Linked DNA regions of Homo sapiens. The protein of the gene in region 4 purifies or fractionates together with the protein of the main gene of each other region. This does not show direct contact. Each region holds a gene or a part of one and is shown on either strand. Other genes may lie near its edges. The genes, in order: KPNA5, MAP1A, FSAF1 and SREK1IP1.

Region 1 (3,570 bases), on a different chromosome or scaffold from region 4:
TTCACCTCTATTAAAGATAACATGTTTCTCTTTGCTGGGCTGTTATAGCTATTTTCCTTAAAAAGAACAGCTTTTCTATACAAAGAAGTTAAAAACGTTGAAGAAAACTTGTTTTAAAAAGATGTTGTAACTTCATAACTTCATCTACTTACCCTCTTTAAAAAATGTATTATCTTCCTTCCTTTCTTCTTTTGTCGAGAAGCCATTGTAGGCCCAAACAAGGTAGATGGCACAAAGATAGGTCTGATAAGGAGTTGGGGGTCCCAGCATGAGGATAGCATCAGTGGAGGGTGGGCATGCAGGTTCAGCATGGGGGATCAGGGCCCCAACTTGATAATGACACCCACTGGGGTGAGCAGATAAGCAGGCTGGAGCAGGACTTGGAGCCAGCACATCATGGGGTACCAGTCTGGCTGAGGTAAAAGATTGGCTGATATAGGGAGGTTAGGAAAATAGAAGCTATTTCCTGTTATCGGAGAATAGAGATAAAAATATAGAAGAGGAGAAAGCCTGAATAATTTAATTATTTTAGATTAGAACTAGAAATATCAGTGTGAACTCATGGCTCTTAACATAGCTAGGTATGGAAATAAATATATACATGTGTGTAGGTATGTGTGTGTGCATCCTCTTGAAGGGCATGGGAACAGTAACACTTCTACATTAATAAGCTGAGGAAACTGAAGTTCAAATCGAAGTTTCTAAACACTACTCTCCATTGAAAGGAACCAAGATTGTTGGAGAAATGACTGGTTTCAGGACTGGGACTGAGAAAAATGTAAGATGAATGCAGGAAGTAATGAGTGCTCAAGTAATGGACAGATGTCAAAAGAACACAGAAGCCTATTTGAAGGGGTTCTCACTATCCAAACCTGGGACAGTTTGTGCTTTGAAATAAATTGCATTAATGTATATTTTATTGAATAAAATATGAAACCCATAAGTCCACACTAAAGCATGTAGTTAGAATGATAGTATTAGAAATACATCACTGGTAATAATACTAATAATTACCAATACTTCAGATAATAAGCATCAAGAGATGCTAAAATCTAGTGGTAAAGTAGGTTAAGGAGTGGGATTTTGCATTATCTCAAAGTATTTTGTTGCAAAATATTAATTATATTAATTATAAATGGGAAAACAATAATGGTAAAATGGAAAAGTCTGGCAGACATCATCATAATTAGTGACCAGAATTCAGTACCAATATAATGGGAAAAAACAGATTGGGATATAATGAAAAGGTTATAGCACTTACGATATCCCCCAGCCAAAGTATATAACCTGGGTCTTAATCATGAAAAACATTGGATAAACCCAAATAATGGGCTTATGATCTTCAAAAATGGCAAAATCATGAAAATTAAGGGAAGACTGAGAAATCATTCTGGAGAGACATGAAAACTGGCTGTAATGAACGATCCTGGATTAGATCCTTTGTTATAAAGATTATCAGAATAATTAGTAAAACTTCAATGGGATCTTTGGCTGAACACCCCGCAGGAGTTTGTAGTATTTTTGTAACTTCTGTGTAAATTTTAAATTCTTACTAGTATTTAGGTTCATGTTTTTATTATTTTTAGGCACAATGATTATAAAGTTGTATCACCTGCATTAAGGGCAGTTGGTAATATTGTGACTGGTGATGATATTCAAACACAGGTGAGTTCAAACTTGAGTATCATAAATTGTTAACATAAAGGACTTTAAAAAATTTATGTTTCATACAACTTGATTACATATTAATCAAGATTTTAGCATCACCATAATTGTGTGTGTGTCTGTATCTGTGTCTTGGAGGATGGTGAGATGTCAAAGAAGATGTGCTGTCAAGATTGACTCCAGCCAGATTTGGGTTACAATCTTTTTATTTATTTAGTAAGTTAGTTTAGTTAGAGACAGGATATTGCTCTTTCTCCTAGGCTGGGGTGCAGTGGTGTGATCATGGCTCACTGCAGCCTTTACCTCCCTGGCTTAAGCAGTCCTCCTGGCTCAAGCAGTCCTCCCGCCTCAGCCTTCCAAGTAGTTGGGACTGCAGGTGTGCACCACCACACCTGGCTAATTTATTTATTTATTTATTTTTTAGGGACAGGGTCTTGCTATGTTGCCCAAGTTGGTCTCAAATTCCTGAGCTCAAGTGATCCTCCTGCTTTGGCCTCTCAAAGCGTTAGACTTACAGGCATGAGCCAGTATGTCCAGCACAATCTTTCTTGAAGATAGAAACTTAAATTATTTAACACGTTAGATTCTCCTTTGTTTACCGCCTTACAGTGTATTTTTTATTCTAACCTACATATTTTCTTTCAGTTTTATCCTTTTAAAGGCCTATTTGGATACTAATCATAGTTATTAAATAGTTGCTCTTTAGTAATTGACAGTTATTCATTTAATATAGCTCTTGAAATGAAAATGCCATTCTAGACATATACTGTAATTTTCAGTTGGATTTCCAGTGCACTGCTCCACACTTCTTCACCAGATGAATTTAATGTAAATCATTGGAGTATTTTGAATATAGGAACATAATTAATCTTGCAATGGAATAAAGAATGTAAAGGGACAATGCAGAATATACTTGTTTACAGAAGAAGAGTAAGATAGTAAAAATTTTTATGAAGCCAATTGATTCTACATGCTGTTTTTAATGGTTGTAGAATTGGATTTTCTCAGACTGTATGATATATGTATTTTTTTCACCAATTCATTTGGCAAAACTAGAGGTTGGATCCTGACCTCGGTCACCAAATCTTTTTTCAGTTTTATCAGTTGAACTCTGAGAACATTTGTAAATATGAAGGATACACCTCTGATTTTCATTTTATTGGGTTGAGAACAGGGCAGTTCCTTATAGTGGCAGGAGACTAGGTTTATCAATAGCAGACGTGTAGAAGACAGCAAGTTTTACTTTGGGAGGAATTTCTCCTTTCTTAATTTCACTTTCTAGAATGGGTTTTGTACATCTAAATAATTCATTAGTAGATTTTCATATAGGTTATTTACTATAAAACTTTTTGTTTCCATTTCTAACTTGTTTTAGGTAATTTTGAATTGTTCTGCATTACCCTGTCTCTTACATTTATTGAGTAGCCCAAAGGAGTCAATTAGAAAAGAAGCCTGCTGGACTGTTTCTAACATCACTGCTGGAAATAGAGCTCAGATTCAGGTAACTACCCTTCAGATCTGAGAGTAGAACAGCAAGGTCTAAGAAGCCAGTTTGGACAAAAGTTAACACTTTTACTAAAAAAGATTCCTTTTTAAAAAGATACCGAAAAAGTATTTTAAAGAACATGGGCTTTCCTCCTCTAAAATAATAACATTTACTTGTAGTATTCTAGTGAAGAACATCAAGTGTGTGTGTGTGTGTGTGTGTCTAGCACAGTGCCTGACACATAATGGTTTGTCTTTAGAAAGATATTTTTTTGCATTAGTTTTAAATAAGTTATGCAATAATCTTCCTCTCAAAGCTTTTAATGATTTATTAGGGTTCTATCAAGCTTCTTGTGTCAGTGATTACTTATCCATTTTGATCAGTCACATGGCTTGTGCTTTATCATCTCTAAAATTTAT
Region 2 (3,570 bases), on a different chromosome or scaffold from region 4:
AGTACGGGAGGAAGGGATGCTTGTGACTGTGTCAAGCAGCAGGGAGCTCTTGCCTGTCTCCTCTGTCTGGGGAGCTGTAAGTGAGGCCACAGATTGGTCCTCAGCCACTGATGTGGCAAAGGAAGAAAGTTTGTCACACTCAGTGATTGAAGTGGCCGAGGACACATGTTCCTCTTCAGCCAAAGGGGCAGCCACTATGTTAGTGGGGTAGGTGAGTTCAGTCTCTGGCGTTCCATAGACTTTGCCAGAGGTAGCAGGAACAGCACTATCGGCAGGTTGGCTGGCTTCGAATGGGCCAGCACCTTCAGGCCCGGGCAGGTCATATGTACTTGTATGAAATCTGGGTGGAGCTGGGCGCTCCTCCGGCTCATCATGGATCTCCTCATCTGAGATGGTCTGCTCAGTCTCTGAGTAGCCAGGGATTGTCTCATCCTGGATGTAAGAGACATGCTCAGTGGCTCCTGCAGGTGTGGTCAGGCTGCTTAGGAATAACGAGGTCTCCTTCTCAGGGGCCTTGCCCTGGAGTCCCAATTCCCGACCCCCAAAAGCCTCCCGGCTCCTTGGAGTTACCTTCAAGGGTTCCTGCATATGTTTTTGGTAAAAACCCTCAGCTTTTGTCGCGTCCTCTTCCTCCTCATCTGAAGGGTGTACCTCCTCCATTTCTTCTAACTCAGCCTTTTCTATCACATCCTCCTTTACTTCAGGTTCACTTTCCTCTCTGGCTTCTGTTCTGTCTGGGAGCCTCTCTGCTTCCCTCTGCTTCTTTTCCTCCCAGGTATCTTTCTCTTCCTCTGTTTCAGCCCCAGAGTCTAGGCCTCTGTCCTTGCTGCCTTGTTCCTCAGGGACCTCTGGGACAAGCTCTTTCTCCTTCATCACATGTTCTTCTTGTCCCAGCCCTGGAACAGAGGGTGGTGTTCCCTGGATAGCTGTACTTGGGGGTCCCTCCTCTGCAGTGTCTAGAGGGAATGGCTTATCTCCTAGTCCTGTGTCCCTTTGTTCAGCCAGCAAAGCCCTCTCCTCACGCTTCATCTCCTCAAAGTCCTGTGTGAGGTCCTCTGGTGAGGATAGGACCAGCTCCCTGTGCCCACTGATGGTTGGGAGTGGTACAGTTCCCTTCTGGGCTGGGGGTGTCTGGGGCTCAGAAGACAGCTCCTTCTCCCCACGGATAGCACGGCTCCTGTCTATTTTGACTCTTCCAGGGACCTTGGCTTTATAGAGGGTCTTACGTACCTCAGGAGTAAAGGGCTTTAGGTCTGGCTTGGAAATCTTCTTGAGCTCAGGTTTGGTATCTTTCCTCTTCTCCTCCTTCTTGGCATCCTTCTTCTCCTCCTTCCTTCCTTCATCCTTCTTGAGCTCTTTCCTCTCCTTTTTGATCTCTTTTTTCTCCTTGTCTTTTTTTTCTTCCAGCTTTGATATCTTTTCTTTAAGGTGCTTTTTCCCTACCTTGTCTTTGATCAGCTTTCGCTTCTCTGCCTTCAGTGCCTCACTTGACTCTGTCTTCACCCTCTCAGGCTTGGCAGGCTTCTCTGGGGGCTTCTCAGATGACTCTTTTGCCTTCTTCTCTGTCTTGGCTAACTCCTTGGCCAGCTCTGAACGTGCCTCCTTGGCTCCCTCTTCTACCACCTCCTCCCGTTTGGCCAACTTGCTCACGGCCGTCTTGGTAGTGGCTTTGAGGCTCTCCTTGCTATCAGCCCGCTGTTTGATTTTGCTGGGCTTGAGGTTGGTAGGCACAGCCCCAGAAGCCAGGTCCTTCTGCGTGGCCACAGGGTAACGCAGGAAGTCCAGATGCCGAAGCTTTTCTAGGCCCTCCAAGATCTTGTTTTGGGGAGCATTTCCTGGAAAAAGCACACGCACAATCTTCTCAGTGGGATTGGCTGGTAGCCAGACCACCAGAGCAGTGATAGAGGTAAGGTAGGGCACGGAGATCTCAGCCTCCTTCCCATTGGGCAGCACGATGCCTGTCTTGGCTTTACTATTGCCTGCCCACTTTTGCATGAGGAACTGCATCTCCTTGCTGTCCTTGACAGGGTTGAGGACATACATGTCCAGCCGGCCCACACCCATTTTGTGGAAGAGGGTCAGTGGCTCAATGGTATTGCTGACCACACGATATAGAGGCTCAGCCTGGATGCCCAGGCGGTTTAAGTGCTGCAGAGTGAGGCAGGCCTCCTCAATGCTACGCTTGGCTTTCCGGGAGGCATCAGGAAGCCGCAGCTTCTCAGGCACGTTGAAAAAGACAACTCCAAGCTCAGGAGAGATAAGGTTCTTCACCCAGTCGCTGTAACTGCTAGAGCCCTGGGACTGCTCCTCCTCTAGCTCTGCCACTTTGCGCTGCAGTAGTCCATTGATGCCTGGCAGGTTGTCTGCCCCAATGTGTGTGAGTAGCACCGAGTCAATGCGGTCCAAGTGCCGTACCAGCTTCCAAAAACAGGACTTGCGATCAGAGCCACCATCCACCAGGATGTTGAAACCATTGACAGCAAAGAGGGCAGAGTCCCCACGACCACCTGGGAAGATGTAGCAACAAGGCTTGGAGAGCTTGAGGAAGCCCCCTGAGGTGGGGGGCTCTAGTAGGTCAAATGGGGATGGCACGTCCACAGTCTCAGAGACATACTCGGAGAACTCAGCCACGCCGTCCATGGTGGGCAGAGTGGGCTCAGGGTTTAGCCGGAGGTGCAGGGTCTCTTGGGAACTGGATAATCCCAGGTGGCTCCAATCACCTTCCCCTAAGCAGGACACGGTAAGGAAGGCCTGTATCCCAGGGTCTCTATTGCTGAGCAATTGGGAAATCTAGAAGAATAGGAGATAGAAACCTGATCAGGTCACTAGAGTTGTTTTGGTCTGACTTAGATTCAGTACCCTAATCTTCACCTCTTTCCAAGGTGGACTCTTACCTTTCTGCCAGGGCCCCCCATGGTCATGCAATATGAGACTTTCCCTTAGATCCCTCCCACAGCTCTAGTGCTACCCTTTCTCCCAGACACTCTGGCATGGAACTTACCTCGGGGTTGTGAAGGACCTGGGCAAAGTTTTCATATGAGTAGGTGCCACTCTGTAGGATGAGGTCTCCCCCAGGCTCTAAACTTTGCCCACTCAAGATTAGTAGTTTATAAGCTGATGAGCTGCTAAGAAGATGATGAACCTGGAATGGAAGAAGGGGAGTGGTCACAGATATAGGAAATCCAGGGAAAGGCAATGAATGGCCCCTCAGTACCTCAAGAACATGCTCCCAACTTATGTCCCTCATAACACCTCCAGAGTGGGCTGGAGACAATACGTCAGCTTAGATGGCAGAGAGAGGAATTCTTGGCCTAATAGTGGTAGCACTGGCAAGGGTGGGTATAGCACTTGCACCAGGCCTGTTTGGCAAGGCACAGGCCCTGGCCTTACCTCAGAGCTGATGCTGTCTGCACTGGGATTTACCAGGATGATGGTCTCTAGGATCTCACTCTGGTGGCAAAGGGTCCTCTGGCCTGAGGGAGAGATGTAGGAATTTATATTGAGAATAGGTATAGAAATTGTGGTGCAGGAGAGGAAAGAATGTGCTATCAGGAAATGGGGCTTAGACGA
Region 3 (3,570 bases), on a different chromosome or scaffold from region 4:
TTGCATGAAATTCTTTGGTGGCTTCTCATGTACTTAAGACTAAAGTCCCAAGGCTCACTACTGCCTATGAGACCTGGCAAGGGCTGGTCTCAGCCTGTCTCTCTTGTATTAGCACCAACCATTCTCCCTTCTGTCCTAGTCTTGCTAGACTTCTTCCAGCTCCTTGAACACACCAGGCCTCTTCATACCCCACAATGTTAGCAAGGCTGTTTTCTCCCTCCTTGGCTCACTCTTCCCTGCCCCATTCACCAGCACCATTTAATACAGCATTAGCCTGAATGTTACCTCCTGAGAGACCTCCCTGACCACTACATCTAGACCAGGTTCTGCATGGTACTCCAGGACCCTATTTGTTTATAATTCTTTCTAATTATATTGCTCAACTCCAAAGTAGATTGTACAGTATACTCCATAAAGGCAAAGCACTATTATCTTCTTCACTGCTCCATCTGCAAGGTCTGCAGACAGCAGGCACCCAGTGATTGGTGGAATAAATGGAGGAATGAATATGTGATCCCATACTATTTCCAGCCAAATTACTTGTATAGTCACTACATTAAAAATGGGACATGGGCCGGACGCAGTGGCTCACGTCTGTAATCCTAGCACTTTGGGAGGCCAAGGAGGGCAGATCACGAGGTCAAGATCGAGACCATCCTGGCCAACATGGTGAAACCCCATCTCTACTAAAAATACAAAAGTTAGCTGGGCATGGTTGTGTGCACCTGTAGTCCCAGCTACTCAGGAGGCTGAGGGAGGAGAATCGCTTGAACCCGGGAGGCGGAGGTTGTAGTGAGCTGAGATCAGGCCACTGCACTCCAGCCTGGTGACAGGGCAAGACTCCATCTCAAAAAAAAAAAAAGGGACATGATGGCTGGGCACAGTGGCTCTCACACCTGTAATCCCAGTGCTTTGGGAGGCTGCGGCAAAAGGACTTCTTGAGATCAGTGGTTCAAGACCAAGCCTGGGCAACAAAACAAGACCCCAACTCTACAAAAAATTTTAAAATGAGCCAGGCATAGTGGTGTGCCCTATAGTCTTAGCTACTTGGGAGGCTGAGGCAGGAGGATGGCTTGGGCCCAGGAATTGGAGGCTGCAGTGAGCTATGATCACACCACTGCATTCCAGCAGGAGTGACAGAGTGACACCCTGTCTCTAAACATAAAAAAATATATATAAATGGTGGCCAAGTTCCGAGATGACCCCATGAAAACCTGCTTCAATGCACGATGCAGCTTAATCATAGAATTTATAGCACAAGTTCTGGAAAAATAGGGTAATTTCCTGGGTCTAGGCAGGGCCAGCTGGATTGTTGTCCAACTCACCATCCCCTTCTTCCTTTCTCAAGCATTCTCTAAAAATGACCAGCTGATGCTATGATTGGTCATGGAGATTACCATTACCCATCATATATTTTTGCCACCCATGTCTGTTTAACTGTCCTACAATGGCTTAGAAGTTTTTAGAGAACAAGGGCACAACTATACTTTCCCATGTTACACAAACTCAGCACAGCTGGTGTATTCCAATTAGCACCAGTTGGCTGACTACCCTTTAACTTGGCATACCCAGGATATGCCATAAGAACTAGCATTATATTCATGTGTATTTATTTCCACACCGCAATGTCAACATTCTGAGGTCATTTTACAGGTGTATGTGTTTTTAATGTGTCCACATTCTGTTTCCTTAACCAGACACACTCACATTTTCAAAGGACACATTTAAAAAAAAAACAAGAGGAAAGGGCAGAGAGCAGCAATGACAAATGAAAATTTTCATTAAGGTCAGGAAGTTCAAAACGTAGAGTGAGCTGAGGCTCCTGAGAAGAGCCAACTAGAATGCATCAGGGCTCGCTTGGAACGGGAAGCAAAAGACAATTTGACAGACTGCCACAGATGTTCTATTATTAAGCAACAGGGAAATGCAGACTCATTCAATCCCAACTCTTCTGTCTTTTCTATTAAAAAGAAAACTTTCCATTCCAGAAAAAAGAACATGAGGGAATATAAGAGGAAACTGAAGTCTGAGACATTTGAAGAAACAAGAAAGGGTGCCTAAATGCTTTATGTTAGTTGAAGTCTTCAAATGCTGAATTATATTGCAAAGCAGTGCTCACCAACATTTTTCATATCATGACACATACAGAAAATACCAGTATTTGTAGGGTACACTGGGGTACTGGGAGATGGCCAGCTTCGGGGCTCTGGTTGCCCCAAACACCAAGGGAATCCATTTCTTGACCCTCCCGTAACAGTTCCCAGAGCCTTATATTTGGAACATAAGAGTTAAGAAGCTTATCTAGAATCCTAAAATAAAGGTAGACATGGTTACAGATTCACTAATAATCTTTTTTTTTTTTTTTGGAGAAAGGGTCTCGCTCTGTCACCCCCGCTGGAGTGCAGTGACACAATCACAGCCCACTGCAGTCTCGACTTCCTGAAGTCAAGCAATCCTCTGGCCTTGGCATCCCAAAGTGCTCGGATTACTGGCGTGAGCCACCACGCTCAGCCTGCAGAATGCGCTAACGATCTTTGAGGAAGAGATGCCAGCAAGCTTGATATGAAATGCTACCTGAATTTTAGAAAAGATTATACAGATGGTTTTTAAAACCATAAAGATGTGGCAAACACTGGACACTAACATACATTTATACATTCATAAAGAACAATGCAAGCCAAACCATCTTCGTAGTGGGTAGAATTGTGGCCTCTAAAAACATATGGCCATGTCCTACTCCTCTTCAGAACCTGTGAATGTGATCTTACTTGGAGAGGGATCTTTATAATTAAACATCTCAAAAGGAGATCATCCCAGATTCAGGGTGGGCCTAAAGCAAAGAGGAAGGCAGAGGGAAACATGAGACTCAGGGACACAGGGATGAAAACCACATTAAGACGGAGGCAGAGATTATAGTTATGCAACCACAAGCCAAGGAAACTGTTAGAGCTACCTTCTGGTCAGAGGCAAAGGATTCTCCCCCAAAGCCCTCAGAGGGAGCATGGCCCTGCCAACACTTTGATTTTGGACTTCTGGACTACGGAACTGTAAGAGAATACATTTCTGTTGGTTTAAGTCACCATGTTTGTGGTAATTTGTTATAGCAGGCTTAGAAACTAATACGTTCAATCCTCACTTCTTTGTTGATAGACAAAGGTTTGCAGGACGTGGGGGATGTTACAGAAATGGAATAGCAATGAATTTGTCAAAGCCATTATGATATTCTTGTGAATAGATAAATTAAAAACATTTGGGGCCAGGCGCAGTGGCTCACGCCTGTAGTCCCAGCATTTGGGGAAGCCAAGGCGGGCAGATCACGAGGTCGGGAGATCAAGACCATCCTGGCTAACATGGTGAAACCCTGACTCTACTAAAAATACAAAAAACTAGCCAGGCGTGGTGGCAGGCACCTGTAGTCCCAGTTACTTGGGAGGCTGAGGCAGAAGAATGGCATGAACCTGGGAGGTGGAGCTTGCAATGAGCTAAGATCGTGCCACTGCACTCCAGCCTGGGCAACAGAACGAGACTCCGTCTCAAAAAAAAAAAAAATTAAAAACATTTGGAGGAGCA
Region 4 (3,570 bases):
ACTCACATTTTTTTTGTTTGTTTCACTTAGCTGGTCACCTGACTTTTGAATGCCGCAATTTTCTCCGAGTAGACCCTAAAAGGGACATAGTTTTGGATGTCAGCAGTACAAGTAGTGAAGATAGCGATGAAGAGAATGAAGAACTGAATAAATTGCAGGCATTACAGGAAAAAAGTAAGCAATATTTTTTTCCATTCTTTAGAAATGTTTGTAAATGTTCTGTCATATTATATCATGCTTTCCATTATACTTACTAAGATCTCTTTTATAGTTTATGTAAGAGCTACTGCATAGGAAATAGGTTTTAAATATTGTAAGTTATTTGCCTAAGATTGAACAGCTAAGCAATTACAGATCCAGGAGGCAAGTCTATTTCTGACACACAGCTTATGTTTTTTGTTGTTGTTTTTCCCCCATCACATTAGGATATGTGTCAAATGGCTGAAAAAGTGTGATTTAAGATTTGGTTTCTAGTCCTATTTGGCAATTTGTTTTAGCACATGACTTTCACCAAGTGACTTAACCATCCTGAGGCTCAGCTGCCTTGTGGGATAACACAAAATGTTGGATTGTCAAATGATGCTCATGCAGATCAGTGATCTTAGCCAGTATCAAGCTTCACTAATAATTTCAAGTATACAAGTGATCGTGAGGCATAGGCAAAGCAGAGAGTTCTGGGCATGCCAATACAGCTCCCCAGGTATTTCCTTTCTACTTCATAACCCACTGTGATCAATATTAACATAAGAAGTTTCTTTATTACTTATACCAAAGAAAGTTGATTTGGTCATGAAACATACTCATTTTATGCTTGGATAGTTACATTTTCCAGGGAGCTATGCCCCATAAATCTATAGATTCCAGGTTTGTTTACCATAAGCAATCTCAGTTACATCCTACTAAAAGGATGTAAATGATAATTATATAAATAGGGGTTCTATGGCTAACAGATATCATTTATTTTTTTTCCAGGAGATCTATTGTTAGTGTGTTTCAGAGAGATTTCTCCAGGTCACTCTCTGTCTTTCCTGGACACATCCTCCTCTCTCCCTAGAGAGAGAGTGGATAGCGGACCTGTTATTTAACCCTTTCTTTCCCACGTTGTGTATAAAATAGCTCATCCTTGCAGTGGGGTTTTTAGGGATTAAACGTGATGCCATAAATTAAACTACTTTGTAAACTACAAAATGCACTATGGTAAATATCACTCTGAAATAAAATATAACTTATTTGAATATAATCTTAGACAAGGAATGAGAGAGTTACAAATTTTAAATTCATTTTAGTTTAGATTGTCGATGAACATTAAACAGTAAACTTTGTTTTTAATATCAAGCTTTCCATATTATGTCCAGTTAAGGTAAGTGAAGAAGTCAAATGTAAGGTGCTAGAACAAGCTGAAAAGGAAAAAGAGGGAGAGAATCCCAAAGAGGGCAAACAAGAGTCATATCATATATGAGTATATACAGCTTCAGGGTAAAGACAGTTGATTGAATACACACACTTTTGTTCTCTACTGAAATACCACTAAAATGCCAGAAGTAGAAAAAAATTTAAAGACGTAAACTCACAAGGGCAAAGAAACTGAGTTAGGAGGGAATAGCAGTAAAATTTTGGAAACTGAAAAGCAGAAGAGTGATAACTGATTACACTCTTGAAAAAGCTAAATTCTTCAGCAGTGTGGAAAGCTGTGAAGTAACCCGACATATATTCTAGAATCCCCTAAAGACATGATAATTAGTATCCTTGGGTACCTCTGGCTGAATATAAGGCTAAAAACAGGAGGATTGGTTTGAAGTCTCCACGAGTTAGACCCTCAGTTCCCTTCCCCTATGAAGTCAGATGACTTCCCTTCATCACCCCAGCAGACTACTGGAGGTTTATTTTCTAGAGAGGGTAAAACATAGGTTCTTTAGACTGGGACACACTAACCATAGCTGAAAGCAGGGAGGAAGTTAAAGGCTGAGAACTTTCTTCACCTATTTGGTTCCCAGACATATATCACAATTAGTCTAGGAAATACTTCACTCAAATGAGTCCCAGAAAGAAAATTTCGAAGAACTGAAGGACATTAGTTTTACAGTTGAAAAGGTGTCACAAGTACCAAACACAGAGCTAAAAATAGACCCACACAAAGGCACACCATTATAAAACTTCATATCACAGGGAACAAGGAAAATATAATCCAGGCTTCCAGGATCAGGGATTAAACAGGTCATCTGTCAAAGATCAGGAGTCAGAATAGCTTTCCACTTCTCTAAAGCAGTCCTGAAAGCTAATAGATGTGGGGAATGCCTTCACATTTTGGAAGGGAAATTATATCCAAGTCAGAATAATATTTTCAACCAAATTATTAGCCAAGCGTGAAAATAGAATAAAGTTGTTTTCAGATATCTTCATTTTAGGTTGATTTTTATATATGGCATGAGGTGAGGGTACAGTTTTATTCTTTTGTATGTGGATATACACTTGACCCAAGACCATTTGCTGAAGACATCCTTTTCCCATTGTGTGTTCTTAACACCCCTCATGGTCAGTTCATCATATATGCATGGGTTTATTCCTGGACTTCCTATTCTGTTACATTGGTCTATGTGTCTGTCTTTATGTCAGTACAATACTATTTTAATTACTATAGCTGTGTAATATATTTTGAAATCAAGGAATGTGATGCCTACAGCTTTGTTCTTCTTAAGATTGCTTTGGCTGTATGGGGTCTTTTGTGGTTCCGTATACATTTTTGGATTATGTTTTATATATCTGTCAAAAGAGCCATTGGGATTTTGGTAGGGATTCCATTGAATTCATAGATTGCTTTAGATAATGTAGGCATTTTAACAATATTCTTTCAATCCATGAGCACATATATTGTCAAATGCTCTTTCTGCATCTATTGAAATATTCATTTGATTTTTAGCCTTCCTTTCTTAATGTGATGTTTCACATTTATGGATTTGCATATATTGAGCCATCCTTGTGTCCCATGGATGAATCCCACTTGATCATAGTGTATGATCCTTTTAATGTGCTGCTAAGTTTGGTTTGCTAGAATTTTGCTGAAGATTGTTGCATATATGTTCATCAGGTGTATTGGTCTGTAATTTTATTTTCTTAAGGTACCTTTGTCTGGCTTTGGTATCAGGGTGATACCAGCCTTGTAAAATAAGTTTGGAAGTGATCTCTTCTCTCCAGTTCTTTAGAAGTGCTTTGGAAGAATTGGCTTAATTGCTCTTTAAATGTTTGGTTGACTTCACCAGCAAAGCCATCTAGTCCTGGGCTTTTCTCTGCTGGGAGGATTACTGACCCAGTGTCTTTACTTGTTACTGGTCTGTTCCTATTTTCGATTTCTTCATGATTCACTCCTGATACATTTTATGTTTCAAGGAGTGTATTCTTGTAAGTTACCCAATTTGTTGACATATAAATGTTCCTTGTATTCTCTTATATAGTTATATATTTATATAACACCCCTTTATATTTCTGTGACATCACTTATACTCTCTTTTTTCAGTTCTAATTTTGGCCCTGTCTTTTTTCTGAGTTAGTCTAGTTAAAGATATGTCAGTTTTA

The links.
Region 1: the proteins of SREK1IP1 (region 4) and KPNA5 purify together in Homo sapiens (affinity purification with mass spectrometry; 2 studies listed by BioGRID and IntAct, with this or other methods). This does not show direct contact.
Region 2: the proteins of SREK1IP1 (region 4) and MAP1A purify together in Homo sapiens (affinity purification with mass spectrometry; 2 studies listed by BioGRID and IntAct, with this or other methods). This does not show direct contact.
Region 3: the proteins of SREK1IP1 (region 4) and FSAF1 purify together in Homo sapiens (affinity purification with mass spectrometry; one large-scale study listed by BioGRID and IntAct). This does not show direct contact.

Annotation. Positions count from the first base shown.
Region 1 is NC_000006.12:116,722,711-116,726,280, forward strand, and holds part of KPNA5 (importin subunit alpha-6), read left to right. Parts: exon of another isoform or gene 1-614; intron 615-1,586; coding exon 1,587-1,665; intron 1,666-3,040; coding exon 3,041-3,166; intron 3,167-3,570. UniProt on the Homo sapiens protein: Functions in nuclear protein import as an adapter protein for nuclear receptor KPNB1. Binds specifically and directly to substrates containing either a simple or bipartite NLS motif.
Region 2 is NC_000015.10:43,520,544-43,524,113, reverse strand, and holds part of MAP1A (microtubule-associated protein 1A), read right to left. Parts: intron 3,474-3,570; coding exon of another isoform or gene 3,391-3,473; intron 3,143-3,390; coding exon of another isoform or gene 3,002-3,142; intron 2,791-3,001; coding exon of another isoform or gene 2,641-2,790; coding exon 1-2,640. UniProt on the Homo sapiens protein: Structural protein involved in the filamentous cross-bridging between microtubules and other skeletal elements.
Region 3 is NC_000001.11:231,234,647-231,238,216, forward strand, and holds part of FSAF1 (40S small subunit processome assembly factor 1), read right to left. Parts: intron 1-3,570.
Region 4 is NC_000005.10:64,737,661-64,741,230, reverse strand, and holds part of SREK1IP1 (protein SREK1IP1), read left to right. Parts: intron 1-30; coding exon 31-174; intron 175-3,570. UniProt on the Homo sapiens protein: Possible splicing regulator involved in the control of cellular survival.